2 separate regions of the Homo sapiens genome follow, and region 2 is linked to region 1. Evidence: fine-mapped expression QTL. A gene starts in region 1. The other region holds a variant in brackets. All regions are shown on one strand. Distances are between the middles of the regions. Region 1 holds the start of FNIP2 (folliculin interacting protein 2). Region 2 overlaps FNIP2 (folliculin interacting protein 2).

Evidence for each region. PIP is the estimated chance that this variant, and not a neighbour inherited with it, causes the effect.
Region 2: its variant is fine-mapped to the expression of FNIP2 in T cells (TOPMed, PIP 0.94).

What each region holds. Positions count from the first base shown.
Region 1 is chr4:158,765,886-158,771,267 of GRCh38, forward strand. FNIP2 (folliculin interacting protein 2) reads left to right here and starts at 3,141. Exons shown (of 17, transcript NM_020840.3): 1 at 3,141-3,434. The coding sequence starts at 3,328. RefSeq lists a silencer at 2,882-3,091 and an enhancer at 3,049-3,786.
Region 2 is chr4:158,823,728-158,829,109 of GRCh38, forward strand. It overlaps FNIP2 (folliculin interacting protein 2), which reads left to right. Exons shown (of 17, transcript NM_020840.3): 2 at 2,189-2,315; 3 at 5,352-5,382. Among named protein-coding and RNA genes, the nearest start is that of FNIP2, 57 kb to the left of the region's middle. The variant C/T (reference allele first, on the strand shown) is at 3,337.

The DNA.
Region 1 (5,382 bases):
TGGTTCATATATGCTAATTGATAAGTAGTCAGTTACGTTCAAAGAACACTGTCCATTTAGGGTAAATAATCCTTCAAATGCAGGAAAATATAGAATAAAAAACGGGTTTGCTGTACTGAAATTAAAAATTTTTTAAAGAATTATTTTTCACTATTCCTTTAGTCTTAGCTCTGTAAATAATTTGCAAAATCACTTAACAGTATGAAAAAACAGAACAGGACCATTGGTGACAAGTATTTTCTCTGGCATATTGAGAGATAAACAGATTGGCATTATGTGTCTCACATAACAAGCAATAAAGAGGACAGAAAACACGAACCTGCCTCAGCCTCTTATAGACTGGTCTATAAGAAAATAGAAATATTATCTCACCTAATGGAGAGTGTCAGGTTAGGGCAGAGGGATTGTGGCTCAATAATGCCATCAAGGACCCAGCTCGCTTCTATGTCTCTTTGCCATCTCCAGTCCTGGTTTCATCTTTAGGCTTGTAGCAAGATGGCATTAGACCTAGACATATAACATCCAAAGGAAGAAAAAAACCCACCTATCTCTCTCTCTCTCTCTTTCTATTAAGAGTGAGGAAACTTTTTCCAGAATTACTCCTTTTCCTCCAGCTCCTTTCTCTCTTGCCTCCTGTTAGGAATAAGGGTAACAGGTATTACATAGGCTACAAACGGTATCAATGACAGTCTAATTGCAGAAGCAGAACTAAAACAACTTACATAATATCCACTAATTGAGAACTGTCACCAGGACTCAGAATGGACCGGACTAAGTAAGTCAGCCCTTTACAACTTCCCCTTTCCCATTTTAGTGTTGTTCTGTCATCTCCAAGCATTCAGGATATTGTCTTATTCCCTGCTCCTCTTGACAGCTGCGTACAAGAACAGCCAGCTGGTATATTTTCCAAGATAGGGTGAGTGGGAAGAGGTGAATAAAGGAGATGTATGGAACTGGGCGATGGGCCACGTGACCAGTGTTGGAGACTGAGATTATGACAAGCCTCAGGGACCAGGCAATGACCAATGGATGATGGGCAAAAGATTGGATTTTTGTAGCGGCCTTGAGTAGCCAATAAAATAAAATAAAAATAAAAAACAAGAAGACTGGGAGAGCTGGCTAGAGCTGTCTCCCAGAACTTTTTTGGCTAGGATTTTTGTATACTTTAAAAATCCAAAGGAGGAGGTGTGGCCAGAACCAGGATGAGGAAGAATGTGATGCTGAGAGGAAGCACAGGGAGAAAGAGGGGAGAAGGGAAGCATTTTGGTTCCTTTTGTCTCCTTTAACTGAAGTCCTGGCTTTAATAGTTTAAAATACACACTCTTCCTTTATAGTTGCCTAGTCAAAACCAAAATTGAAGATGATGGCTAGAGCAGGTTATGATTTTTTAATTGCCTCTTTTGGATGATCTTGTCTATTTGGACTGGGTTGGAACTGAAAGAGTCCTAGGAAGTGAGGAATGAGGCACAATATGTCAAATTCCTCTTCTATATGCAGTTACAAAAGCTGCTAGGCTCATGAGGAACATGCAGATTTTAGTCTGGAGAATAAAGGACATTTTCTGACCAAGGATGGAGTAAGGAAAGGTGGTGAGTTGCTGGCCACAGTATGACCTGGGACTGTATCTGAAAGTCACAACGTATAAAGCCAATACCTTCTATATAGCATCCTGACCAACACTGGCAGCCCTATGAGGTAAAGGCCTTCAGCAAACAGAAATAGCAAAGTTGCAAATTAGGGTTCTGTGTACACTCAATTGTGCAAAAGGATGATTGCTCATCAGGATAAACACTTAATCCACCATTTTAACAGTAAAAGTCCGAAGGAAACAAATGACTAAGTTTCCATTTCTACCACCTTTCTCTTACCTTTGTGAAATTTCAGCACATTATTCACAGCTAGTTCCCAACCAAGTCCAGAAACTAACACAATTAAAAAAAGAAAATGCAAAGTAAAATAGGCCCAGAATAGGTTCTTTTGATTACTTATGTTTTTGGAAATATATTTTCCTTTTTGAGTCTCCAAGAGTCCTCCTCTCAACAAGTGTAAGAGAGCCCAGGTGAGTCACTGTTCACTACTCATGGAGAAGCTAGAAGAGGCATGGTTGGGGTCTTACTAACTTTATCTCTATTTCCCATCATCGGAAAAATTCGTGAAGCCCAACGCTCTAAAACATAGATTAAGAAGTTGCTTTGAGTCTGGTAACGTGTCCTACACTGGCTGTTTAGAGCCCTGCACCACCAAGGATTAAATTCCAAAGGGGACTGGGGTGGGACAGGGCAGGAAAGCGGACTCAAACACATGAACTCCTCCCTTCCTCAAACCAAATATCTGCTGCTGATATGCCTTGATTGACTGTTAAATATGTATTAGGAAAAACAATCCCTTGCTATAAAATATCTTAAGTTTCTAAATCTATGTAGTGAGTTCTGTGTGTGTGTGTGTGTGTGTGTGTGTGTGTGTGTGTGTATGTTTTAAAGGGGGGACTTAATATTTCAAATGCAACTTCTTATATAACCATGGTATGGTGGCCCAAGACGCCAAACAGAACAAATGATTTGGATAAACAGTTTAAATTTTGTGAAAGCCTGGAGGAATCGAATTTGGACATGGAGGAAACCTGACAAAACCTTGGGTGCTATGTGATTCAAATCACAGCCCACCGAAGCGGCCACCGCGCGTACCAAGCCTTCCCCCCTAGCATACGCCTTCTGTGAACGGGCTCTTGTACCTGAACAAAGCGAGGACCCAAGTTCAGGGGCTTTGTCTCTAAAGAACAAAGATCGGCCTAGCTGCATGCTCGCTGTGCGAAAGAACCCAGGCTCCGTGGGAACCCCACGCCACTCGCGGAGCTGCGCCCCGGCGGCCGCCCTCGCCCCTCGGGCCCCTTTAAGTGCCGCGCCTGCCCCCGTCCGCGTCCCCCGCGTGCCCGGAGTACTGGGCCGCCCGCCCGCTCCTGGCCGCACCTCCCACCTCCCGCCTCCCGCCGGGGTTACGTGAGCCCGGGGCGGGCGGCCGCCGGGCCAATGGCCGCCGCCGGGGCCGCCGCGCTCCTCCCGCGCCGCCGCCGCCGCCGTGGGGCTGCGGGCTCCTCCCGCAGGAGATAACTGTCAGCGCGCGAGGCGGTGGCGGGCCGGCTCAGTCATATGACCGGCAGCCGGCGGCTCCGGCGCCGAGCAGAGTTACTCAGTCGCAGCGGCCCCGCGCTCCCGCAAGGCTGGGCGGCCGCGCCGCCGCGATGGCCCCGCCACCGCGGCCGCCGCCCCCGGCTGCGCGCTGAGCCGCCGGCCCCCCGAGCGCCACGGCCGGAGCTGCGGCGGCGGCATCATGGCCCCGACCCTGCTCCAGAAGCTCTTCAACAAAAGGGGCAGCAGCGGCAGCTCCGCGGCGGCGTCTGCCCAGGGCAGGGCTCCTAAGGAAGGACCCGCCTTTAGGTGAGGGGGCGCCGGGGGGCAATTCTGGCGCGGGACCCGAGTTGGCTTCGGTGCTCGCCGGGGAGGGGACGGGTAGGGGAAAGGGAAGGGACTGTCCAGGACGGCGCTGCCTATCGCCGGCACCTGGTCCCGGGCTTGTCAGCGTGGACGCGCCTGATCCGAGTGTGGCTCCGGACCCTCCGTGACCCTTCCTCCCGCTCTTTCTCCACAACTCAGGGTCCTTCCCCATTTCAGAGTTCTCTTGTGTTCCTTGGGGTTCCCGGGCGTGCGCTGTGCTTGGCTGTGGCGACCGGAGATTCTCCGGTTATTGGGGTGAACCCCTTCCGGGCAGAGCCGCCTGGGCACCTCTGCGGGCCCAGCAAAGCTGTGAGCTGTCATTTTGAGGGCAGCTCCAACCTATTGTGTACGTGACAGTGTTTTGAAGTTCTGAAGGAGCAACAGTCACGAAAAAGGCATCTTTCTTCTTTCTTGCCATATATGACAAGCTCTCAAACGGATGAATGAAAGTATGTAATTTCCACATCATGTGGAAGGTTGATGCCGCATGATGTGTGGAAAGGGGGAGTAAGATGCAATTATGAAATTTCCGAGATTTCAATTGATCAAAGCTGATATGTATATTTAATAGATTTGATCTCTCGAACACATACCTTTGAATATTGATAGCATTTATGGAGAGCTTACTACCTAAAATGCTTTATGTTGATTTCTGTCGTTTACTTTTCTGACAATGCGGTGAGGTGGGTGCTATTATAATTCCCATTTTACAGGTGAGGAAACTTAAAGTCACAGATAACTTAGGCGGCTTGCCCAAAATCCAGCTGTCAGTGGTAGAGCCTGTGTTTTGACCCAAGCAGTTTGACCACAGATTCCAGTCTTTAAAATCCCTATGCTATTCTGATTTCAAGGGCTAACTTTTAAAAGACGCCTTAAAATGTCCTATATTGCCTTTGAGCACAGGTATGTTGAGAAGTTTATTTAACAATTTTTCAACACATTTTAAAATTGAGCACCAACTCCCAATTCTGACACTATGCTAGGTGCTTTTTGGCCAAAATGTCTTGCAAAAACAGTTCACTGTTAAACAGATCTAGACCCAGTATAATAAACCTTTAAAAGTTTCAAGTGAAACTTTGAAATAAATTCTGGATTAAGTTTTATGTTCTAGATTTTGCTTTTCTTGAATTCCATCATTTAAAACAGTCTCTCACTGTGGTCATGTGAAAATTAAACGTGTGTGTGTGTGTGCACGCGCGCTCATGGAAGGCATATTGTGAGGACCTTAAACTCCCCAAGTTAAATTCTCATGTTTTCTTTAGGCTAACAAGCCTTATAATTTGAGTGGGAATTCTATGCCTTTTGTTAGGCTGAGTATTAGTGATGCCATGTACCTTCTCAGAATGGTAGAATTACTTCGGACCTAAGGTGTGTAATTTCGTCCCTTCCCTCCCTGTAACCCAGACTCCATCAGGGGTACAAAGCCTGGAGCGGAAGGAGCATGTTACAGGTGTCTGTACTTTGACAGCTCTTGCCAAGGACATTTAAAGCCATTTGAATGCAGGAGGAGATAGTGGCGGTTACTTGTCATTGTTTTCTGTGCTCCTTGCCTAATTGCCTACCACCATTTCCGCTATCCACAAGTTTAACTGAGTGTATTTGAACAAAAAAAATATGGCTATATTTAGGGTTTTGGGCCATATTAGGGAAATTGATTCCCACTTCATGGGAACATTTTCAGTAGTGTTCTGACTTCTCATTTGTGTATAATGAAGAACAGAAAATCGTGCCAAGTACGGTCTTTTTTTTGACCTCATTGGGATTTTCTACAAGAATTTGAGATCGATGTTTTTGGAGAATTTGGGGATCCCAGTTGAACATCCTACTTGATGAGGGCCCCCTTCAATAGTGTCCCTGATAGAGGTCACCATGGAAAAGAAAGTAAAGTAGC
Region 2 (5,382 bases), 58 kb after region 1:
CCCTTACTTCATGATGGCAAAAATAGCCACCACCAACTCCAGGGTTACCATTTACAAGCTGAACAACTGAGTTTTGGGGCTGGCTCACACAGCCAGCTTGGGTCATGTGGCCATGTCTCATTAGCCAGACCTGAAACATGGACTCCCTCTGGACTGAGAGTAGAGGGAAGATGGTTTGAAAATAAACTTGGCTTATTATTATCAAGATTAGGAGGAAAGGATGCTGGGCGTGATAACTTAGGGCACAGCTTGTTGAAAGAAGGTACAACCAGAACTTTATATGTTTTGCCGTAGGGATTTAAGAAAACAAATCTGCTACCCAAAAAGAACATGTTCAGTATTAACTGCCTGAAAAAGGAAAAGACCAAAAATGCACAATTTGTGATTGAGTACCAGACACTGTATTAATTTTCTTTAAAAATCATAACATTACCAATCCTCTGAGGCAATTATTGCCATTTTGGAGCACTTACTGTGTGTCACACTTTGTGTGAGGCACTTTACGCTTTGTAGGACAGCTTTGTGAGGGCAGCCTTAATATTCTCATTGTACTGATGAAGAACTAGGAGGCCAGAGGCATTTGGGTTTGAATCCAGATGTGTCTTATTTCATTTATATCATCTCCTAGTTTTACAGTTTGCTTTTGTTAGTCTGTCTGTGTGTCCATCTATCCTCCTCTGTCCTGTCAGAGCTCCCCCTCAGCTTCTCTAAGCAAGGCCCCCTTTCACCTCGGGCACCTCTCCAGTCCATTGGGAAACCGGCTCAACTCTGTCCTCTGAGCATGCCACCAGTGTCTGTCCCCTTTCCCCCACCTCTGCTGCTGGAGCTCTAGCCTTCATTATGAAGGGCCAGAACTCTTATTATGAATTCTGTTTGGCCTTCCTGCTTCCAGTCTTCATCTCTTCCACCCCCATTTTCCTTAACAGCCAGATTGAACTTTCAAAAAGTGCAGACCTGATCTTATCAAGCGTCTGTTTTCCTTGGCTTCTCATGGAGGGAGAACATGATCCTGGCCCCTGCCTGCCGTCCTTTCCACCTCACGGCACTCACTCTCTGGCCTTTTTTCTTCTTCCTTCTCCAGTGCAGCAGTCTTACACCTTACCACCTCCTTCTCTGTTCCTATGGTGCGCATCATTTGTTTTGCTTCTTCAGGTCTGTGTTTACATGTCACTTCAAGTCCTTAGGGACTTCTCTGTCCCTTTCCCCTACCCCTTCAATCTGGAAATCTGAAGCTGTTTACTGCTCCTTTTTGTACTTTTCACAGTTTGTAGTGATACATTCGTCTGTGATTATTTGCCTAACATTCCCCACTGAATCATGAACTCCATAAGGGTGGGGACCAGGTCTGTCTGGTTAATTAATTGCTGAGTCTCTAGCAGCAACCACAGTGCCTGGAACATCACAGACACTCAAATATGTGTTGACTGGACTGATGGGTTAAAAACTGAGTATATCCAAAGCAGTGCACTTTTAAATGATTATCTTTTCTGTAGTTCCCTCACTCTGTAATTTATTAAGAATGAACCTATGTTTTCCTCAGAGCAGTTTTATCCCAGTTGCTTTTGGTTTGCTTAGAAACATGCTTCCTTTCTTGCTGACTGTAATTGCTAGCAATTCCAGTGCTCTACAGTGATGCACTTGGTTTCTGAAACTCCTGGATTAGAGCTAGCCATAATCGGGGAAGATAATAAATTTTAGGGTATGTAATTCCTCTTAATTTGACCTGAGTGTGGGTGAGGGAAAGAAGAGAAGGCTCTACCGACTTGCTCCAAATGGTTCCCTGCCCAATAACACAGAAGCCTTAACACTCCTTTAACTCGGATATGCTGTCCCCAGAACCCAGGCATCCAAATTTAGTCTTCTCTGCATGTCCTTGTGATTTCTGACTGCCATCTGTGTCCAAATTGGCTTTGGAAGGAGAAGCTTTCTCTCCAGTGATTTATTATTTAAAGCAGTCTTCTCAGCCCTTATCATGAAAACTGGCAATTTTCATATGGCCCTTTGGAATCCACATACAAGGCTATCTGTCCCAGGCTCACTGGTGCCCCAGTTCTGAGGGGATCACTAGCCCTGCATGCTTGTGGCCTTTTGATGTGCACACAGGCATGGTGACTGGGAAGCTTATCTGTCTGTGATCATCTCATGTGCTGCAGATAACATAACTTCTTTTGCCCTTTTTAATCCACAGTTGGTCATGTTCGGAGTTTGACCTGAATGAGATTCGCCTGATAGTTTACCAGGACTGTGACAGGAGAGGCAGACAAGTCTTGTTTGACTCTAAAGCTGTTCAAAAGATTGAGGAGGTGACAGCTCAGGTATGAAATGCTGATTTGCTTTCTCCTTTTCTTTTGTGCTTTTAACCACCCTTCTGATCAATCATTTATTAATCTATCATCTTCTCTTTGAGTTATATTATACAGTGCCATTAATGGTTCAGAAGAAACATAAGCAAGCATTGAATCCTTTAATCAAAGCCCTACCCCCAACAGGCATGAGTATGCTCACTGCTAAACACAAGTGAAACTGTTAGCAAGTAATCATGGCAGGAGCTAAGCAGTGTACTATTAATAGTACTAGAGGTAAATTTGCTGGTGAGTTGCAATCCAGTAAGATTTTGATGCCAAGTGAGTGCCTCAAATGTAATGGGAAAGCAGAACTCTAAAATTCATAAAGTGATAAAGTGTTAGTGTGAAGATCATTCTGTCCAGTGTTTCTCATGGATAATAATAAGTAGCACTGGGTTAAACAAAATTAAACAGCTTTGCTTATTTACAGGACTTCCATATGCAAACCTGCATTGTTATCTTCAAAAAGGATTGTTTCTCAAACCCTTCTGACCAGGGGAGCTTTTATTTATTTCCCATTTTTTTTGTGGAGAGTTGGGTGGTAGTGGTGGTGGTGGTGGTGGTGTAGGGTGGGCGACAAGCAATGGGTAGAGTGAGGATAGAGCAGCTCTTGATCCCTTGGAACCAGAATGGGAATGGTAAAGTAACATGTTTAAGGTGAGGAGAGTCTGATCCTTTCTGGGTCTTTTTTGGATATGATACCAGGGTACTTGTAAATTCACTTTAGACCTTTCATTCTCTTTTCAGTATTTGTTCAGATGCCTACAAATTAAATAAATCCACTTGTATTCATTCTTTTTATGTTCAATAAGTTGCTACCCATACTGACCAAATACTGGCAGTTTGTAGAATGTGCAGCTAAGTAAATGAACAGTTTATAACGCAGTCTTTGTCTCATCAGGGCCAAGGGGTTGTTTTCCTGCTTTTGATAAGGATCATTTCTGCAGGAAGGAAGTGTTTGGTTAAACACAGTTTAGCTGGGTGGATTCCA[C/T]AGTGTTTTAAAGTGGAGTTCTGCCAGGTGGCTAATCATTACAGTAGTTGTTGGGCTTGTTAGGTAGGTGAAGGGAGGGAGGGGGAAACCAAGAAATCTCTCAGGTGATTCACTGTAGGCTTTCCAGGTTAGATTTGTAACAGAAATTTAGGTGAGCCAGCACTTGACCCTTTGGTGGACAGGAGATGGTTTACCTCTTAGTTTCTTGAATTATTTCCCATTTCTCTGAAGGCCTCACATGGATGGTCTAGTTGAGCAGCTATCACTGGGGCTGCTCATAGTGGTGGCAGGTGGAGGGGAAAAGAAACACAAGTTTTCAAAAGGAACTGGAATCTTCAGTGTACCAGAGCACTGATAATGCTGGAATCTGGAAACATAGGCTTTCTTAGAAGCATTCATCTAACCAAAAAGGCATCTTAGGTTCAGGAGGTTTGTAGCTTGCCCAAGGCTACAAAAGAATCCAGTCAGTGCTCTATTCACTACACCAGGTGGTTTCTCCAATTATAGACTGTTCAGCATTGTACTCCAGCCAAAGGGTCTAGCAGTCTGAAGCAGTGGCACCTCGTGTCACTTAGGCCCTCTGAGGGGCTGTGTTTCTGGCTTAAGTGAGATTGAGTAACAGCTTTATCTTTAGCGTGTTGAGGGAGTGCTGGGTGCTCAGGAATAATCAAGTGCCACTTTGAATGCCATCATTGCTGGAGTGACAGTTGTGGTCCAGCACATTTTGTGTTTTCCTTACGTTCTTTTCCCATTTTCAGTCCCCACCGCCCCAGCCTCCCTTGGCAAGCACAAAACGTCATGAGTTTGTATCAAGCACATGACTGCAGGCATTTGCATTAGACCACCAGTGTGACTGTCACATTGGAGATTAGATAAGCTGCAATTGCATTCATGTTTTTTTCCAAGCAAAAGCTACACAAGGAAAAAAAAAAGGCAAAGAAGACTCAGAATAGAAATAACTTATCATAGAGGGTGCAGGAAGCTTCTGTAGGGAGTAATATGTTTGGGGAGAGGTAAATATTAATAAAGGTTTATCCTTATACGTTTGTCACTGTGATAAAAATTAGTGGCAAACTCTAGGGAATGTATAGTAGAGCATCCTCTGTTGTCTTTAACCTTTGAAGACCATATTTCCATCACATGCTATGTAATTCACAGTAGCTCCTGTTTCAGGGTTTTGGTTTCATCCCTTACAAATTCAACCTCATGATTTTCCTTCCTGTTACCTTTAAAGGAGTAGTAGAGGAGGTGTGTCATTAAAAACACAAGTAGGCCGGGCGCGGTGGCTCACGCCTGTAATCCAGCACTTTGAGAGGCTGAGGTGGGCAGATCACGAGGTCAAGAGATCAAGACCATCTTGGTCAACATGGTGAAACCCCATCTCCACTAAAAATACAAAAAAATTAGCTGGGCGTGATGGTGGGCACCTGTAAGTCCCAGCTACTTGGAGGCTGAGACAGGAGAATTGCTTGAACCCGGGAGGCACGGGTTGCAGTGAGCCGAGATCATGCCGCTGCACTACAGCCTGGCAACAGGGTGAGACTCCATCTCACAAACAAACAAACAAACAAAAAACCCTACGAGCCAGTCTGCCCAAATTAATAGTTTTGTTTTATTAGTTCCATTTGCTTAGTAAAAATTTAGATTTGAAGCCTCATCTTTCTCCTCATCAATGTAATGGATTATGACTCTACATAATACTAAAAAGCTAATAATCAAAACTCAAATAACCAAAACAGAGGTCAATTATGTGAATTGAAGTGTAAATAATAGTTAAATTATTAAAAGAGGATAAAGTCTTAATACATAACCTACCTCCTTTTGTCTAGAACCCTTCTTCAGCATTCTGCCATCCCAAACCATGTTTTTGTCATTATTGGGGAAAAAAAAAAGCTTCTGTTTTTTAATGCAACCTAGGCACCAGAATGCTTTTAAAAAGGAATTCCCAATGAAGAACTGTTGACGAACCTGATATACTTAGTAATCTTTTACCTTGCCTGTCTCTCTTAACCTAGAAAACAGAGGATGTTCCTATTAAAATATCAG